Regions from separate parts of the Homo sapiens genome. Here region 1 is linked to region 2. Evidence: fine-mapped QTL for protein levels in blood plasma. A gene starts in region 2. The other region holds a variant in brackets. All regions are shown on one strand. Distances are between the middles of the regions.

The links. PIP is the chance, under the fine-mapping model, that this variant and not a neighbour inherited with it causes the effect. The UK Biobank Pharma Proteomics Project read protein levels with antibody pairs (Olink). The fine-mapping took linkage between variants from a reference panel, not from the people measured, so its PIPs are less certain.
Region 1: its variant is fine-mapped to the plasma level of the GRK5 protein (UK Biobank, PIP above 0.99).

The regions. Positions count from the first base shown.
Region 1 is chr10:119,247,006-119,255,337 of GRCh38, reverse strand. The region is part of intron 1 of GRK5 (G protein-coupled receptor kinase 5); the gene reads right to left. Among named protein-coding and RNA genes, the nearest start is that of GRK5-IT1, 43 kb to the right of the region's middle. The variant T/C (reference allele first, on the strand shown) is at 4,594.
Region 2 is chr10:119,203,488-119,211,819 of GRCh38, reverse strand. It overlaps GRK5 (G protein-coupled receptor kinase 5), which reads right to left and starts at 4,249. Exons shown (of 16, transcript NM_005308.3): 1 at 3,851-4,249. The coding sequence starts at 3,902. It overlaps GRK5-IT1 (GRK5 intronic transcript 1), which reads right to left and starts at 3,399. Exons shown (of 2, transcript NR_186528.1): 1 at 3,170-3,399; 2 at 1-339. RefSeq lists silencers at 3,823-3,872, 3,923-3,992, 4,203-5,032 and enhancers at 5,373-5,482, 5,503-5,552, 5,663-5,742.

The sequences.
Region 1 (8,332 bases), 44 kb before region 2:
AAAGGCCCCTGCTATCTTGTGTTCCAAGTGGAAAGAGCCTGGGTCCCTGATACCCCTGAGAATAAGAGATCCACCTCTGGCCATAGCTGCTGTCCCTCCAGAAGCCTGTGCCACACCCCTCCCTGGATCCTATCTCTCCCAGCAGCTCTCTCTCCTCCCATCAGGGAAGTCAAGGCCACCTCCGGGCTTCCAAATGGCTCATCTCCTGGCCTCCTCCCACCTGACGACCTTACCTGCGCATACATACACAGAGCTTCCTGCTCTACTCTGTTTTTCCTTCTTTTTTTTTTTTTTTTTTTGAGACTGAGTCTTGCTCTGTCGCCCAGGCTGGAGTGCAATGGCGCAATCTCGGCTTCCTGGGTTAAAGCAATTCTCCTGCTTAAGCCTCCTGAGTAGCTGGGATTACAGGCACCTGCCAACATGCCCAGCTAACTTTTGCATTTTTAGTAGAGATGGGGTTTCACCACATTGGCCAGGCTGGTCTCGAACTCCTGACCTCAGGTGATCCATCCGTCTCAGCCTCCCAAAGTGCTGAGATTACAGGCGTGAGCCACCGTGCCCGGCCTGTTTTTCCATTTTTTTCTTACAAAATACATCATACATCCCAAGGTCCCTGTTTTGATATGTCTCTGCCTGTGAATCCCACCTCCTCCTGGAGAAATAGTCCAGAGTCATCCACACTCAGATTGCTGGGCTGGGCACCTGACCCAGGCCACAGAGCTGAAATGACATCCTCCGTGCCCCAGCCATCAACTCCCACCCCTTCTCCCTCCCCATACTGGCCAGAAATAAGATAGCCACACCCGCTACAAATCCCATGCACGGTTTCTTGTTCCAAGCTGCCTTTCCCATTAGGCTGTAAGCCCCCTGAGCACAAGGACCAGGTCTGCCTGTTCCCCAGTAAATCCCCAGAGTTGTTGAATGAATAAGAGCAGAGTACAAAAAAAAAAATCTAAAACTTATCACAATACACTGTCTAAAAACTAAAGTAGGGCAGAACAGAACAGACCAAACCCTTCTCTGAGGATCAAGAGACAGGATTTGAGTTCTAGCTGTGCAACCCTGGGAGGGTCATAGGTCCTCTCTGGCCCTCAGTTTCCTCCTCCTTTAAAACAAGCCACTGGGCCAAGATGACCTTTCAGGCCCCCTACAACTCAAGTACTGGATGATTCTGAAAGCATTTTTCAAAGGCGCTTAGAATTACAAGAGTCCCACTTTAGGGGACAGTCACCGGCCCAGCAGGCCTCATGTGTGGCTCATCTTTCCCCGCTGTGGTGTGGTTTGGTTTAAAGGCAAAGTCAGAGGAGACACATCAGCCCTGTTGACTAAAGCGTAATATTTTCCATCAGGTGTCACGGCTTTCTGTACTTTCTCCTTTTCCCCTGGGGAATCTCAAAAAGAGTCCATGTGAACATCTGAAAATAAGTGTGCCTCATGAAAAAGCATGCACGCACACACATGTGTACACACACACACACACACACACACACCCCTGGGGCAAAGAACCACCAGGAACCCAAACACTAAACAACCTCCAGCCCCCCACCCCAGGCAAAGCTCCAGAAGCCGTATCTGGGAGACACTGCATTTTTCTGGAATTGTGTCATCATTCACAACAAAGTTCACTCTCAGGCCTTGCATCCACCCCGGAGCTGGGCTGGGCTGCCCAGAGCCACAGTGAAAAAAGAGCTGGCCACTCACACCATTTTTATGGTGAGCCGTGACCTCCAAACGAGCTGGGTGTGCGCCGGGCTGAAGCCCTGGTTCCAGCCGTGGTGGGGCAGCATCCCGCAAGCATATCACAGCACCCTAAGCTCCAGGGCTTAGACCCAGGCAAGAGGCATGAAAAATAGAGCAGCTACACGGAGGAGCCTAAGCTTCTGATTTAAATATAAAAGGAACGGAGGGCAGGGGTGGTGGGGAGGCTGGCTTGTCCCTCTTCTCCACAGGCCTGGCAGGATCCAGGGGGCTGTGGAGATCACTGAGTTAGGAGAAGACATCAGTGACCTGATGTAATTCCTTTTCTAATGCAATGCTGAACTGGAGATAGTTCACAGATGCTCCAATCTTCCTTGCTTGTCCTTCAAATTTCGGACTCTATCAAGGGCCTCTGTAATCTCAACAGACCCTCAGATGTGAGCTCAAGGGGGCACTGGGTGGTGTAGACACCCTCTGTCAAACCTGTGCTGTCACCACTGAGCCACCAACTCTCCCTCATCAGCAGATTAGTACAGCAGGGTTGAAACCAGCCTTGAGCACTAAGGGGGCGTATCAGGAAAACCAGGGCACTGTCCCCTCTCCAGTGTGGCTAGGGGATCCTCTGTAGTCCACACTGGCCATGACCCTCACCCTTCAGGGTCCATCATTTTCCCTAAGACCACCTGGCCTTTGGAACACTTGGTTTATTGGCCCCAGGGGAGGAGGGTGACTGACCTGATACATCTGGGCAAGTTCCAAAGTTCAAAGTTTCAACCATGGCCTCATCTCTCAATTTGTTCAGGGAAGAAAAATGCTATTTATTGAGGTATCCTCTACGACCCATAAAAATGAGGCAAAAGCCACAGAGTGACCCCAAGCCCTTCACAGACACTTGCCCCCAAATCAGGAACTCAGGACTCAAAGCAAATTTAGGAAGGCCACATTTCCGTCTCTTAACAGCACCATCTTTTTCTACAAATCAGGAGAAAAATAGAAAGGTAGACTGTTCTAGTTGGAAGTCAGCTTTACGAGAAACATGAGGACCAGAAGGAAGACACTATTTGCACAAGATCGTGCTGCTACCCGGGGTAGAACTAAAACCATGCCCAGGTCTCGAGACACCCGGTCCAGTGCCCTTCCCCGCCTCTCCAGCGTAGCCCTCTGCACCCAGCTCAGGGTTCTGGCCCATCCACACGGCCCAGAGAGAGACACTTCTCCCCTACCCCCAGCCCTGGGAAAGGGCTGCACGCTGGCCCCTAGGATCCAGCTGAAAGCCTCTCCTGGCAACTTCACCCTGTCTCTGCCCTTCAGGTTCCAAAAGGAGAAACAAGACAGCTCTCTGCCCGTCGCAGGCCTGGGCTGCCCAGAGGTCACAGCACAGTGATCCATCAACTGTCAACTCCACCAGGACCTGTAGCTGGGGCTGGCAAGCTCACCCCACCCAGATGGTTTCCCTTTGCATGGCTGTCTCCAGGATGGTCCTGCTACTCACACAGCTGCCCCTATCGGCACGAGCACGCCACGCAGGCCAGCAGCAAGAGGGATGGTCAGGGAGAGTGAAGACATATGTCTGACTTAGACTTCAGTCACCTGAGCCAGAATTGTACTTGGCACATCTGTCCAGATGCAGCAATATCTCAAGGCAGGGAGGGTGGGATGAAAAGAAGAAAATCAAGTTCTAATCCTTAGTGGAAGGGCTGAGGATTGGATATGCACAGGGCGGAGAAGCAGCTTGCAAATTCTAGACCACCAAAATCGAGGCGAGTGGTTCTCAACCAGGAGCAATTTTACCCCCAAGAGGACATTTGACAAAGTCTGGAGACATTTTTGGTTGTCATAACTATGAAGCTAAAGGCCACAGATGCTGTTAAACATCATCCAACGCACAGGCCGGCCCCCATGACAAAGAATTATCCAGCCCCAGATGGCAACGGTGTCAAGGTTGACAAACCCTGCTTTAGGTGTGTAGATGCTAGAAGGTTTTTTGTTTTATTTTCTTTCCCCCAGACATCTTTCATCATCGCTTTAGAAGACAGCAAGAAAATAACGTGGGAGTATGACAATTACAACTCCAGATAAATGTTCGCAGCCTGTCAGAATGGAAGCCTGGGCTTCTTCCTCTGTTCCAGTGACTCAGTAACTGAAGCTGCGGAGAGGAAGGCCAAGGCTTCGGGAGACAGCTCCGAGTAAAGACAGGCTTAAGACAAAGTTCTGAGTATGTTCTTGAAAAGCTCAGGCATCACAGAAAGGCATTGGTGATGCCATAAACATCCAGCTTGTGCTGCCTTTGAAATCTGATTGAACAAGAAATACTCTTACAGAGCCTTTTGGTTATAGTCTGCTTTTTGTTTTAACATGGTTTTAATCAGGAAATCATGGCTCTTTGTTCCTTCAGGAAATTCTGTCAAATGGTTCACATTCCTTGTAAAGAACTACTGTCTATGCAAATTAAGATTCAGAGTTTTAAATTCAAACAGTTTGGGAGCAAGCAGCGTTTTGTTGTTGTTTCTTAATGTCAACGTGAGAAAAAAAAAAAGTGAGGGGAGGAAAGAATGCAAATGTTCGTCATTGAAAACACACACAAAACCAGAAACATTTTCCCCTCATGCACAAGGTCAGGAGTCTCTGGGTGAATGAAGCTGCTTCATGTTTTGCAGACGCGCTGATGGAACATGGGAAATACTGTTGCAAAGGCCCTCGATAGGAGAGCGTGGAGATGCCTAGAAATAGACATATCACCCAACAACGGGTTATCTATGAGAACTGCATTGTTCTCAGTGTGACTGGGCAGCACAGGCTATGGCATCGGGATATGAAAAATATAGTAACATACTCTATTACACATCCTCTTTACTCAGAGCAAGAGGAGATAAACACAGGTCATGACTAAGCCAC[T/C]TTCTCCAACGTTCACTTCCAATTTTGTGTGTAGCTCTGATCCAGTCATCAAGGTGCTGACTTAAGGAAAAAGTGTGGATGGAATATGTGGTGTAGGGCCAGGCACAGTGGCTCATGCCTGTAATCCCAGCACTTTGGGAGGCCGAGGCAGTAGGATCATTTGAGTCCAGGAGTTCAAGACCTGGGCAACAAAGTGAGACCTTGACTGTACAAAAAAAAAAAAAAAATTTAAATGAGGCTGTAGGATGCCTGGAGCCTGGGAGATCAAGGTTGTAATAGGTTGTGATGACGCCACTGCACTCCAGCCTGGGTGACAGAGCGAGACCCTGCCTCAAATAAAAGAAAAAGAAAAAGTTAAAGAAAATGACTATCTCTGACGTTGCCTTATCCTTCCTGGAATTAGGGAGAATGGCAAAGAAAGTTGTATGAAGGCCCCCACAACTGAGTTCAAACCCTACATCCACAAGTAGCTTCAGGACCTGGAGCAGGTGATTTAATTTCTCTGAGCCCCTCAGTTTCTTCATCTGTAAAATGAAAATTTACAGGTCAAAGGCTTAACACAGAAGAGACTCTCACTCAACAAACAATGAGCATGTTCTGACTGAAGGCTTTCCAGGGAGATTCACCCCACAGGTCTGGGCACAGCACTCCTAGACTCTGAAGAGCCTCTGTGGAGGTCAGAGGCTCTTTGAGGATTCAGTGTTCTTTTCTAAGCCCTAGTCCCTATCCAGAGTTGCCAAGAATGCGGGAAAGCAGAGACTCCACTGTTGGGAGCATGACTTAGTGGGGCCATTCTGGAAGGCAATTTGTTAAGACCCTTCATCTTTAAGCCCACTGCCAGGTATCTGTGACATCCTTGCACACGTGCACAAAGAGTTATGCACTTACAATAACAATGACACAGTAATAGTAAACTTTTTTGAGCATTTAAAAAGTTCAAAGTCAGCTGGACGCAGTGGCTCACGCCTATAATCCCAGCATTTTGGGAGGCCGAGGTAGGCAGATCACCTGAGGTCAGGAGTTCAAGACCAGCCTGGCCAACATGATGAAACCCCATCTCTACTAAAAATATTTAAAAAATTAGATGGGCATGGTGGAGCGCACCTGTAGTCCCAGCTACTTAGGAGGCTGAGACAAGAGAATTGCTTGAACCTGGGAGATGGAGATTGCAGTGAGCCGAGATCGCGCCATTGCACTCCAGCCTGGGCAACAGAGTGAGACTCCATCTCAAATAAGTAAAATAAAATAAAATAAAATGTTTAAAGTGTTTACACACAATTCATACATATTTGATACATGATATACCTGGTGTGTCACATAATATTTATTTGATATATGTACTAAGTAACTTAGATAAGCCTACAAAGTAGGTATTCTACATATGATATTTATTTGATATATATATTAAGTCACTTCACCCTACAAGGTAGGTATTATTAGTATCTCCTTTTTGTTTTTCGTTTTTTGTTTTTTGAGACGAAGTTTCGCTCTTGTTGCCCAGGCTGGAGCACAATGGCACGATCTCGGCTCACTGCAACCTCCGCTTCCTGGGTTCAAGTTATTCTCCTGTCTCAGCCTCCTGAGTAGCTGGGATTACAGGCACCCGCCACCATGCCCGGCTAATTTTTTTGTATATTTAGTAAAGACGGGGTTTCACCATGTTGACCAGGCTGGTCTTGAACTTCTGACCTCAGGTGATCCACCCACCTCAGCCTCCCAAAATGCTGGGATTACAGGCATGAGCCACCGCGCCCAGCTAGTATCTCCATTTTAAAGAAAAGAAAGTTGAGACATGGAGAGATTAGTAACTTGCCCTAGGTCAGAGGTCGGCAAATGTTTTCTGTAAAAGGCCAGATGGTAAATATTCTAGGTGGGCCATATGGTCTCTGTCACAACTACTCAATTCTGTGGCATGAAAAAAGCCCTAGATAATAGATCCACAAATGAGCATGCTGTTCAACAAAACAAGTTAATGGACACTGAATTTTGAATTTCACACCGTTTTCATATATTAGGAAATACTTACCTTTTTTTTTTAACCATTTAAAAATGAAAAAATCAGTCTTGCCTCACAGGCCCTACAGAAACACAGCGGGGTGGATTTGCCATGGAGGCTATAGCTTGCCACCCCCTGCCCTAGGTCACTCATCTAGTCTAAGTCCTGTTTCAAAGCCAGGCAGTCTAAGCTCCACAAGGCACATTCATAATCTCATGCTATCATTGCTTCATTTAGTATCAAAAAGAAAGGGTGAGGAAATGGCTCAATAAATTAGGAACAGAATTCATATTATGGAACGCCCTGCAGGATTAAAAAAATGTCATCTGCACATGGGCCAGTGTGAAGGAACTCTGGATGTGTAAGTGAAAAAAGCAAGCTGTACATCAACACACACATCATGACCCTCTTTTTATGGATCAAAAATAACGACAACAGCCAGCGATAGTGGCTCACTTCTATAATCCTAGCACTTTGGGAGGCAGAGGCAGGAGGATTGCTTGAGCCCAGGAGTTTGAGACCAGCCTGGGCAACATGGCAAGACCCTTTCTCCACACAAAAATTTAAAAATTGGCTGGGTGTGGTGGTACATGCCTATAGTCCCAGCTCCTTCAGAGGCCAAGGTGGGAGGATTGCTAGAGTCCAGGAGGTTGAGGCTGCAGTGAGCTATGATCACACCAGTGCACTCCAGCCTGAGACCCTGTCTCAAAAGAAATTAAAATAAAAATAAAGCTAATTACGTATTTGTGTGCATATGGATATAAACACTTGTTCACTCACATATAAACAGTCAGCATTTAGAAAGATGTCTGGAAAGATTATCACCAAATGTCAGCAGCCAGGCAGGGTGGGGGGGACTTTCATGATTGTCTGTATATATATGTGCCCCTATAATTTGAAACTTTTACATCCCAAATGCATCCTTCTATTATGTGTATCATAAAAGAAAATGATTGAGGTACTAGTTACAAGTCACCACTTGCCAACACACTTTGAGCTCTCTGAGCAGTTTCCATGTGGCCCCCTCTAAACAAAAGCTGGTTACAATTAATTATGGCAGGACAAAGACATTTTTTCCAGAGGGCAAAACAAACAAACAAACAAAGGTGGCATAAACTATAGTAAATAAACATAGCTGTGTCTCTTTGACCATCACCAGTGATTTTGTTTTAATTGCTATTAAACATGTGCATGACCTAACCTTCTCCAGACACTATTAACCTCCAACCCCAGGATGTCGGTTGTAAACAAAGCCTTCAAGGGTTTCATCTGGTGTGTGATAGTCCAGGCATAGCTTTCCTGACTACATAAACTTTAATTTATAAAGTTATTTTGGTTTGCTCCACTGGCATGAACATAGCTGAAGGGGGAGTCATCGACTGTGGAAATGAGATTTCCCTCAGTGCCAATTTTAAATCCAGCCTCCAGGTCATCGTATTTTTCTGGATGCTTCTCACAGTCACATTTTTTGTTTGTTTGTTTTACATGAAAGAGCACATTCCCTTTCCCCAAGTCAGGTTTACCATTTTCCATTGCTCTTATTAAACGTATCTTATTCTAATGGAATGTTCTCAGAGTTTCCGCCCTCCGCTGGCCTGGGTAAGAGAGGTCTGGAGTTGGACGCCCTAGGACGGACAGTCACTCAGATGCCGAGCTCCAGGCCATTGCCAAGCACCACCTCATCACAACTGCAGAAAGCAACGGGGTACAAAATCCCATCCTCGGGCCAGGGCACGGATCTGA
Region 2 (8,332 bases):
CTGGATGCTGGCTCACTCCTTCTTCCTGCCCTCCCTAACCTCTTCCAGGCCCCGAGGTGCTAATCTTGATGATCAGGAAGATCCAGCCAAGTCACAGAGTTACCTGAAAAAACGGTTCCTGTGTATTCTAATGTTTGGCAATTGTGACAAATGACAAAGTTGTTCCAGTCCTAACTTCTCAATTCCTGTGCTTGCTAGGGCCTCAGGAAAATGTGATCAATATTCCTTCAGGTATCTTTTTTGATCAGATATGGCTACTGCTGGCCTGTGAAGAAAGGAAAAGCGGGGCCTTGCAAAATTTTTTCTCACCACTGTTCACTCAGAAGAAAGGCAACAGATCTAGAAGATGAGAAAAACACAAAAACCTTTACTGCAACAATAAAACCAAAAAGAAACACACAAAAGGCACTCAGCAAACTCTCCTTCTCATTATTATTTCAACATTAGGTCGCCTGCCAATTTTCTGAGATTCTGAAATGTAAATAAATAGATAGAGTTAGTCTGGGCCTCTTTTTCATGAAATGCTTAATCACTTAGCTCATTCCCATAAATTGCCATGAATTCAGTCTCAACTTCTTTCTTTTTTTCCTTAAGCACTTTTTAGGAGAGCAATCTAAAGTTCCTAAGAGTGATCGAGTTGATGTTTTCTCATGAGACCCAGGACAAATAAACAGGCCCCAAAATACATTTCCGTGGTTCAAAATCTTGAACCCATACCTCTACCTTTTCTTATTTTAAAATAATTATCACAAGTGTTCATGAAGCTTGCTTGCTATATTTTCTAATTACTAACAATCCATCATTTTACTCTAATCCACTTACAGGCTTTCTATTTTATTGCTACATTAATGCTTTCCACTTTATATTATGTCTTATTACGGTAAGACTTTGAAGATACAGTGAATTTAGGAGCCATCTGTCTTTAATGCAAAACAAAAAGAAAAGATAGGTCCCAGTGTTACCCACCAACATGGACAACTACAAATTATTTTACAGCATTTTCAAAGTGTGCCTGTCTTTCTTCAAGGTCTGTTTCTCTATTGTTTGGGACAAATGTGACTTTTACTTGAAAGCCAAATTTTAAATTGCTTACGGTGTATTTTGTTAAGTGAACTAAATTAAATTTCACATTTGCCAATTATATTTCTCATCTGTAACCACTGACAAGAATCTTTAAGAAGTGTTTTTAAACCTTTTAAACAACTCAGATTTTTTTAATATACTGTTTTATATTAGATATTTCACTAAACTGACTGAAGATTTCATTTCTGAATATTTAGATAATATGGTTATTTGGAGAACTACTAAGTTTAGTAAAATAAATTCAAATATATGAGAACTGAGAAGAGAAACATAAATTGCTTTAATTTCTAAAAGTGTCCACACTAATTAGGATATATGGGCTCAAGTCTCTAATAAAGGCCCAGCCAAAAGAAACTGGAAGCACTTAAAATCATGGCTTTCCTCTAGGCATAAGAGAGAAAGAAGGGGAGAGATGCAAATTGTAAATGAGGTTTCCATTAAATGATTAATTTTTCTTGTTCACGTGTCAGTCTCTCCCTGCTTCCGCAGGCCCTCTCCATTTCCAAGGCATCATCAAGAGCTATTTTCTCACCATGAGATGACGACCAAACTCTCACAGCAAAATTGAAAAAGCCTTTAAAAGGAAAAAAAAAAGTGAAAGGCACATTCTTGAGCACTTTCAATCACTGTAATTCTGCCCCAATGGGAGTCGGTCACTCCACACAAGCTTCCAGCCTGCAGCTCTCTTCTCCAAGGCTCTGGGAAAAAAACCCAATTTGTTGGCCTAACGAACAACAATATCAGACAGTAAATTCACGTTGGTGAAAAAATACTGGGGAGAACAATTTGGAGGGGGCGGGTGGAATTGATATCACTTTGCCCACTCTAAGCAAAGCATTATAAAAGAAGCAACCAAATGCTCAGGGAAGAAAAAAAGCATCTATCAGGCAAACAAATATCTACAGCAGCAAATGTCGGGGGCAGATTCCCTGGGCAACAGGAGGAACCAGCGAAACTTGCAAGGCTCCAGTACCATCAGACCCAGTGATTTCCCAAGAAATAATTTCAGAATGGAGCGAGAGTGAAAACTTTCCCAGCCCCCGAATCCTGAGATACACAACCGTGTCCCACCACTAGGTGGCCAGCTGCAAAGGCTGAAAGAGGGGCGGGGGAGGTGGAGGGCTGTTTTCTCTGCTTCCTCCCTTTCAGGACCATTCCCCAACCCAGAGGAGAGCCTACCAGCACCCACCTAGATCCTGTCCACTAAAAATGTCAGGTTAGGAAAAAAAAAAAAAAAAAAAAAAAAAAACCACACACACACACACAGCTCAGGCCTTAGAACCTGAAGTCACCAAGTAACAAGCCTCTCCTAAAAATTTATTCCCACCAAAGCTAAGCAATGGGAGGGAGACTAACCTGAATATTTTAAACTCTGCTGGGGTTTTCAAAGCACTGCCTCCCTTCGGGGCTTCTGAAATAAACCTTCTTGCCCACTGGCTGCTTTAGAGTGACAAGTGACGACGAAAGTAAGACACGAATGCCGGGTTGAGTTGCTGAAACGCTGCCCACGGAAGGCTATGCATCACCTACCCCCACAGTGTGTAGGGAGCCACAAGGTGATGGAACGGGCTGAATAAACACGAATCGTTTTATTGCTGGCCAGAAATTCTTCCCTTCATTCATCAAAGTAGGTGAATGAAAATATTAAGCAGGTAAGACATTTTCATGGGCTGCTCACCGAGTATCCTTCTAAACTCAAGCCCTTACTCAGTCTGCCTTCTACCTTGTATCAAATAAAGCGTTCTCCCGTGAAAGGGAAAAACCTCTTCCCCTTTTATGAAAAAGGTCGCACACTAGAGCTCAAATCTTGACCAGAAAAAAAAAAGGAAAATATGCGACATAAATTCCAGGTATTCCTAAATACATATGTTTACATGGACACAACACAATCATTTCAGGAAGCACCCAAGTTTCTGCCTCCCCCCCCTTTTTTCTGTTTTTCATCAAAAGGAAGAGTCAAAATATGCGTTCTTAGGGTTTGACTCAGGATCTTACACACTCCATTTAGACAATATTTCCTGCCAGCTAAATGCAGGAAATCTAATGATTTGCATAGAAAACGTATCTAAAGCACCAGCACACTTACCTTTCTTTTCTTAACTGAGCCAAAATCTAACAATTTCAGTTATCACACTCCCAGAAAAGAAAAACCTGAAATACTGAATTATTTTCTAGGTGGTCTGTACAGCCATCCTTTGATAATTCTATGAAAAGGCTAATTCCTCAACATCTGACTTTGCCTTTAAAAGGCTTCCTTCCACACGACGGGATTTCCCTAAGAAACATCCCAGCGGATGGTTTCCAGCAATAGTCTATATCAACTCAGCCTGCGCAGGCAAAGACTTGGCTTCTGCTCATTCCACCCCCGCCCCTCGAACACACACACCAGTTCACACAGAACCATCCCGGGCCGACTTGAAACGCTATTTTATGTGCATGTTTGCTCGTCGCTCCCCGAATGAATGCTTTTCCAACTGACCTTTCAACAGCTGCCGAGATGGCACGCTCTGCAGGGCGAGCGCTGGAAACTAGGAGATATGTTAGCATCCAAATCCCTGCAACCTTCTCAGCCCAAGTCCAGATTCTCTGAGCCCCAAGGCAGGAACCCTGAAGGGTCTGCAGAGCCGCTCTCCGAAGTGTCCTGCTCGCGACCCACTCGCCGGCAGCGGGCATCCTGCACGGGCGCAGCCCCAGCCCGCACGCCACCCGACACCCGCACCCTGGCCCGCGGCGGACGCGCCGGGCACGTACCGGCCCTGCCTCTTACCTTCCCTGGCTTTCAGCAAGACCGTGTTGGCCACGATGTTTTCCAGCTCCATTGACAGTCGGCGGTCAGCAACGGAGCCGGCCGGCGGGGCTGTCAGCGCCTGGGGTGCTGCCGCTGCTGCTGCCGCTGCTCGGGCTGCCGCCGCTGCTGCCGGAGCCGGGGGAGCCAGCAGCCCGCCTTGCCTACCGCATTATTCCTGCTCTCAGCCCAAGAGTTTCCCCCTCTGCAAAGAGGAGCCGCCGCCGCCGCCGCCGCCGCCGCCGCTTCTTCCTCCCTCTGTGTCCCCCCTCCCCCCTCCCTCAACACGCTCCCCCCCACCCCCCACCCTCCGCGTGTCTCTGTCACTCCATTCTCCTCCCCTCCGGCTCCCTCGGATGCTTTAATGCCTCGGATGCTTCTGCCTCCCCTCAGTCCCTCCCGGGGGTGTGGTACTAGCAGGCTCGGGCGGCCGCACTGCGCAAGCGCCGGCCCAGGCGCGCCTCCTGCCTCGGTGCTCGCGGCGCGGGGCCTGCTGGGAGCTGGAGTCCTCCCGGCCGCGCGGCGCCGGGGCTGAGCTGGGCTGGCGCGCGGCTGTCGGAGCGAGGACCCGCCCCGGGACGGCACCGAAAGCGAAGGCGGGCACCGCCCGGCCGACAGGCGACTCAAAGGCGGCCCAGCCAAGCCGAAGTCCCCAGCACCCCCCCGCAGGCTCCCGCTTGCCCCCTTCCCGCCCCGTCGCCAGCCCGGAAAGCGGAGTGCACGGGCCCCGGTGACGGCGCGTGAAGCGCCGCGGCCCGGCAGGAGCCAGTGCGGGTCCCGAGCCGTGCTCGGAGTGGGAGGGCTGCCAGCTCGGCCGCGCGCCACAGCCCGCTTCCTCCGGTCCGCGCCAGGCCCGCGAGGGTCTGAGTCCCGGGTCAGTGACGCGCGCCCAGGGTCCCCGCACGCGGCGGCGGCCGGCCCGGCCTGGCCCCTGCCCAGCGTCTCCCACGCGGCGCCTCGGGCCGCGGACAAAGATGCACTTTGTTTCCTCGGAGGGCGCGAAGGGCTCTGCGGGTCGGCTGCGACCCGGCGCTGGCTGCCCGCGCTGCTCTCGGTGCGACCCGAGCGCCCCCCGCCGGCCGCGGTGCGCGGCGCGGGGTCTACGCGGACGGCGCCTGGGGCTCAGGGTCCAGCGTGGGAAGCTGCTTATTCTGTGAATAAACTGCCTTCCAGCACACCCGGCCAGCAAATCCACGAGCCTCCCTGCAGCCAAACCCAGCCAGATTAAGTAATAAAAACGCAGACGGAGTCGCCGGAGTCTCCGCCGTGGGGAGCGTTAATGAGTAACAGCCAGGCCAGCGCCAAGCCGGCGTGGGATTAACGTTTTTAAATTCCGGTCTTATTTATTTTGGGGCTCTTAGCTCCTTCCAGTGTTATGCTCAGAACATCAGACTCCAGGTCTGTGCTCAGCCCCGTTTCCTTGCTCCCTCCGCTCCGAAGGCCCCACTCCTGGAAATGGGCTGTCTTCGGTCACCCGGGATCTGCCACGAGTGTCCTACAGCTGGGGGCGGGGCAGGCAGGCCCCAAAGAACAATGAGGCCTTTGCCTCCTCTGCATCCTGCGGGCCGGATATCCGTTCAGAAGCCGACTCTGGGCCTTCTCTGTCCAGAAGGAGGAAACCCTCTGTCCCCAGGGCTGCCAGGAAGTCGCAGGGAGGTGCCGAGAGAAACAGAGAACAGTTATTATGCATTGGAGAATATAAAGAAATCAATAAACCTTCCAGGCCTTGGAAACTGGTCTGGTCACTGATTGTAACAACCCAAGATTACCTGCTTTCCTGGGGGAGTATACCCACCACCACCACTTCCTGGTGTCTAGACTTGGGTCAGTGAGTCTCCCAGGGCCTCATTTATCTTGTCTGCAAAATGGGGGCAACAACAGTTTACCTGTCAGAAGGCGGAGGGCTCAGCGGGTAACTTTTCAGGCACTTACCACTCCAGGAATTACTGTTCTAAGCAATCCAGGCTTGGTCTTTGCTACATATTCACGTGCCTAGAGCCCTAACCTTTAATGAAAGGATCTCTCTCAGACAGCGAGACCCCTAAAGCTGGCAGCTCCTAGAGCCCTCCACCAACCACGCTGGTCACTTGCTGGCAGCATAGGGCCTGATGAAGCCCGAAGTTTGTTTATTCGGCTAACATAAAAAAAAAAAGAAAGAAAATTTTTGAATGCCTTTAGATGGCTTATGCACCTTAACAATTTTCTTGGGCCGGGCGCGGTGGCTTACGCCTGTAATCCCAGCACTTTGGGAGGCCGAGGCGGGAGGATCACGAGGTCAGGAGATCGAGACCATCCTGGCTAACAGTGAAACCCTGTCTCTACTAAAAATACAAAAAAAAAATAGCCGGGCGTGGTGTTGGGCTCCTGTAGTCCCAGCTATTCAGGAGGCTGAGGCAGGAGAATGGCGTGAACCCGGGAGACGGAGGTTGCAATGAGCCGAGATCGCGCCACTGCACTCCAGCCTGGGCGACAGAGCGAGACTCCGAACCAAAAAAAAAAAAAAAAAAAAAAAACAATTTTCTCAAAGGTTGTTTTTGTTTGTTTTTTTGTTTTGTTTTGTTTTGAGACAGTTACTCTGTCACCCAGGCTGGAGTGCAGTGGCCCAATCTCGGCTCACTGCAACCTCGGCCTCCCAGGTTCAAATGATTCTTGTACTTCAGCCTCCCAAGTAGCTGGGATTACAGGTGTGTGCCACCATGACTGGCTAATTTTTGTATTTTGAGTAGAGACGGGGTTTCGCCATAATGGCCAGGCTGGTCTTGAACTCCTGGACTCAAGTGATCCAACCCGCCTCTGCCTCCCAAAGTGCTGGAATTACAGGCATAAGCCACCATGCCTGGCTCAAAGTTTCATGAGCATACAAATCACGGGGGATCTTGTTAAAATGCAGATTGCATTTGGATAGATCTGGGGTGGTTTCTGAGATGTTGCTCTTTCTAACAAACTCCAGGGCTCTGTCGATCCTCGTGGTCAGTAGACCACACTCAGAGTTGAAAAGCTTTCTAGTTTACCGTAACTCCCTATTGTCTTATACCCAGCCCAAGTCACTAGTGATTTTATTTATCTGGCCTGTATAGACATTTAAGTTTTCCATCCTGGGAACCCCTGCCTCTCCCTCTCATTTTACAGATGTGAAACAGACCCAAAGTAAGTGAGTTGGCATGGTCACTCAGCAAGTTAGTGTTAGACTATTTTTTTGTCCACTACAAGCTGTTGCATCCTGCCTACACAAATACATGGTTGTACATCAGGTTTTTGTGCCTCTATGAGGAAATTCAGACACTCCAATGCAAGAATGGAACAATAATGGCTAGCATTTACTCAACACCAACTGTGGGCCAGGCTCTTGTGGTCTTTTAAATGGATTATCTCCTTGAACACAATATCCAGATGAGGTAGGGAACACAGGCCTATTTTATAGATAAAGCACCAGGTTAAGAAAGGTTTTATAGGCCGGGCACGGTGGCTCACGCCTGTAATCCCAACACTTTGGGAGGCCAAGGCAGGCAGATCACCTGAGGTCAGGAGTTCGAGACCAGCCTAACATGGTAAAACCCCGTCTCTACTAAAAATACAAAAATTAGCTGGGTGTAGTGGCAGGTGCCTTGTAATCCCAGCTACTCGGGAGGCTGAGGTAGGAGAATGACTTGAACCCGGGAGCCAGAGGTTGCAGTGAGCCAAGATCATGCCATTGCACTCCAGCCTGGGCAACAGAGTGAGACTTTTTTTTTTTCCTCAAAAAAAAAGAAAGGTTTTATAATTTGTCCAGGGTCACATAAGTAATAAGTAGAAGACCCGGGATTTGAACCTGTCAGCCTGACTCAGAGTTGGTGCACTTAATTTCTGGCTTGCGCAAGCTAGCCAGCACAGCTTGGTAGTAACTGTTCTGTGTGGCTGCCGGGATGAACTTGTATTATAAGAAGGCAAAGCACCCAGTTGACTAAATCATTAAGATTTCAAGGGGTTTTCCATTTTCATCTATAATTCCACCATTATGGCTTTATTCCTTTCAATTAACTGCACTAACAACTCGTGGTCTTCTTGAAAAATGGGTTTGATTCAAGGAAGAGTAGGCTATTAAATATAAATAGCTAAGTAGGGAATCATTGACAGCCAGCTGAGAGCAAGAAGGGAAATCCAAATGGAGGAGTGGGGGTGAGGATGGAGGGATGGGAATATGTCAAAGACAGCCAGCTTCAGACTCCACTCAGGAGCAGCTGAGCCAAAAATGCAAAAGAAGTCAGATGCAGTGGCTCATGCCTACAATCCCAGCACTTTTAGAGGCTAAAGCAAGGGTGCAGGGGATGGGGGGGTGGAGATCGCTTGAGCCCAGGAGTTCGAGACCAACCTAGGCAACATAGCGAGACCCTGTCTCTACGAAATAAACCTAAAAATTAGCCAGGTATGGTGGCACTGAGCTATGATCGCCCCACTGCACTCCAGCTTGGGTAACAGAGTAAGACT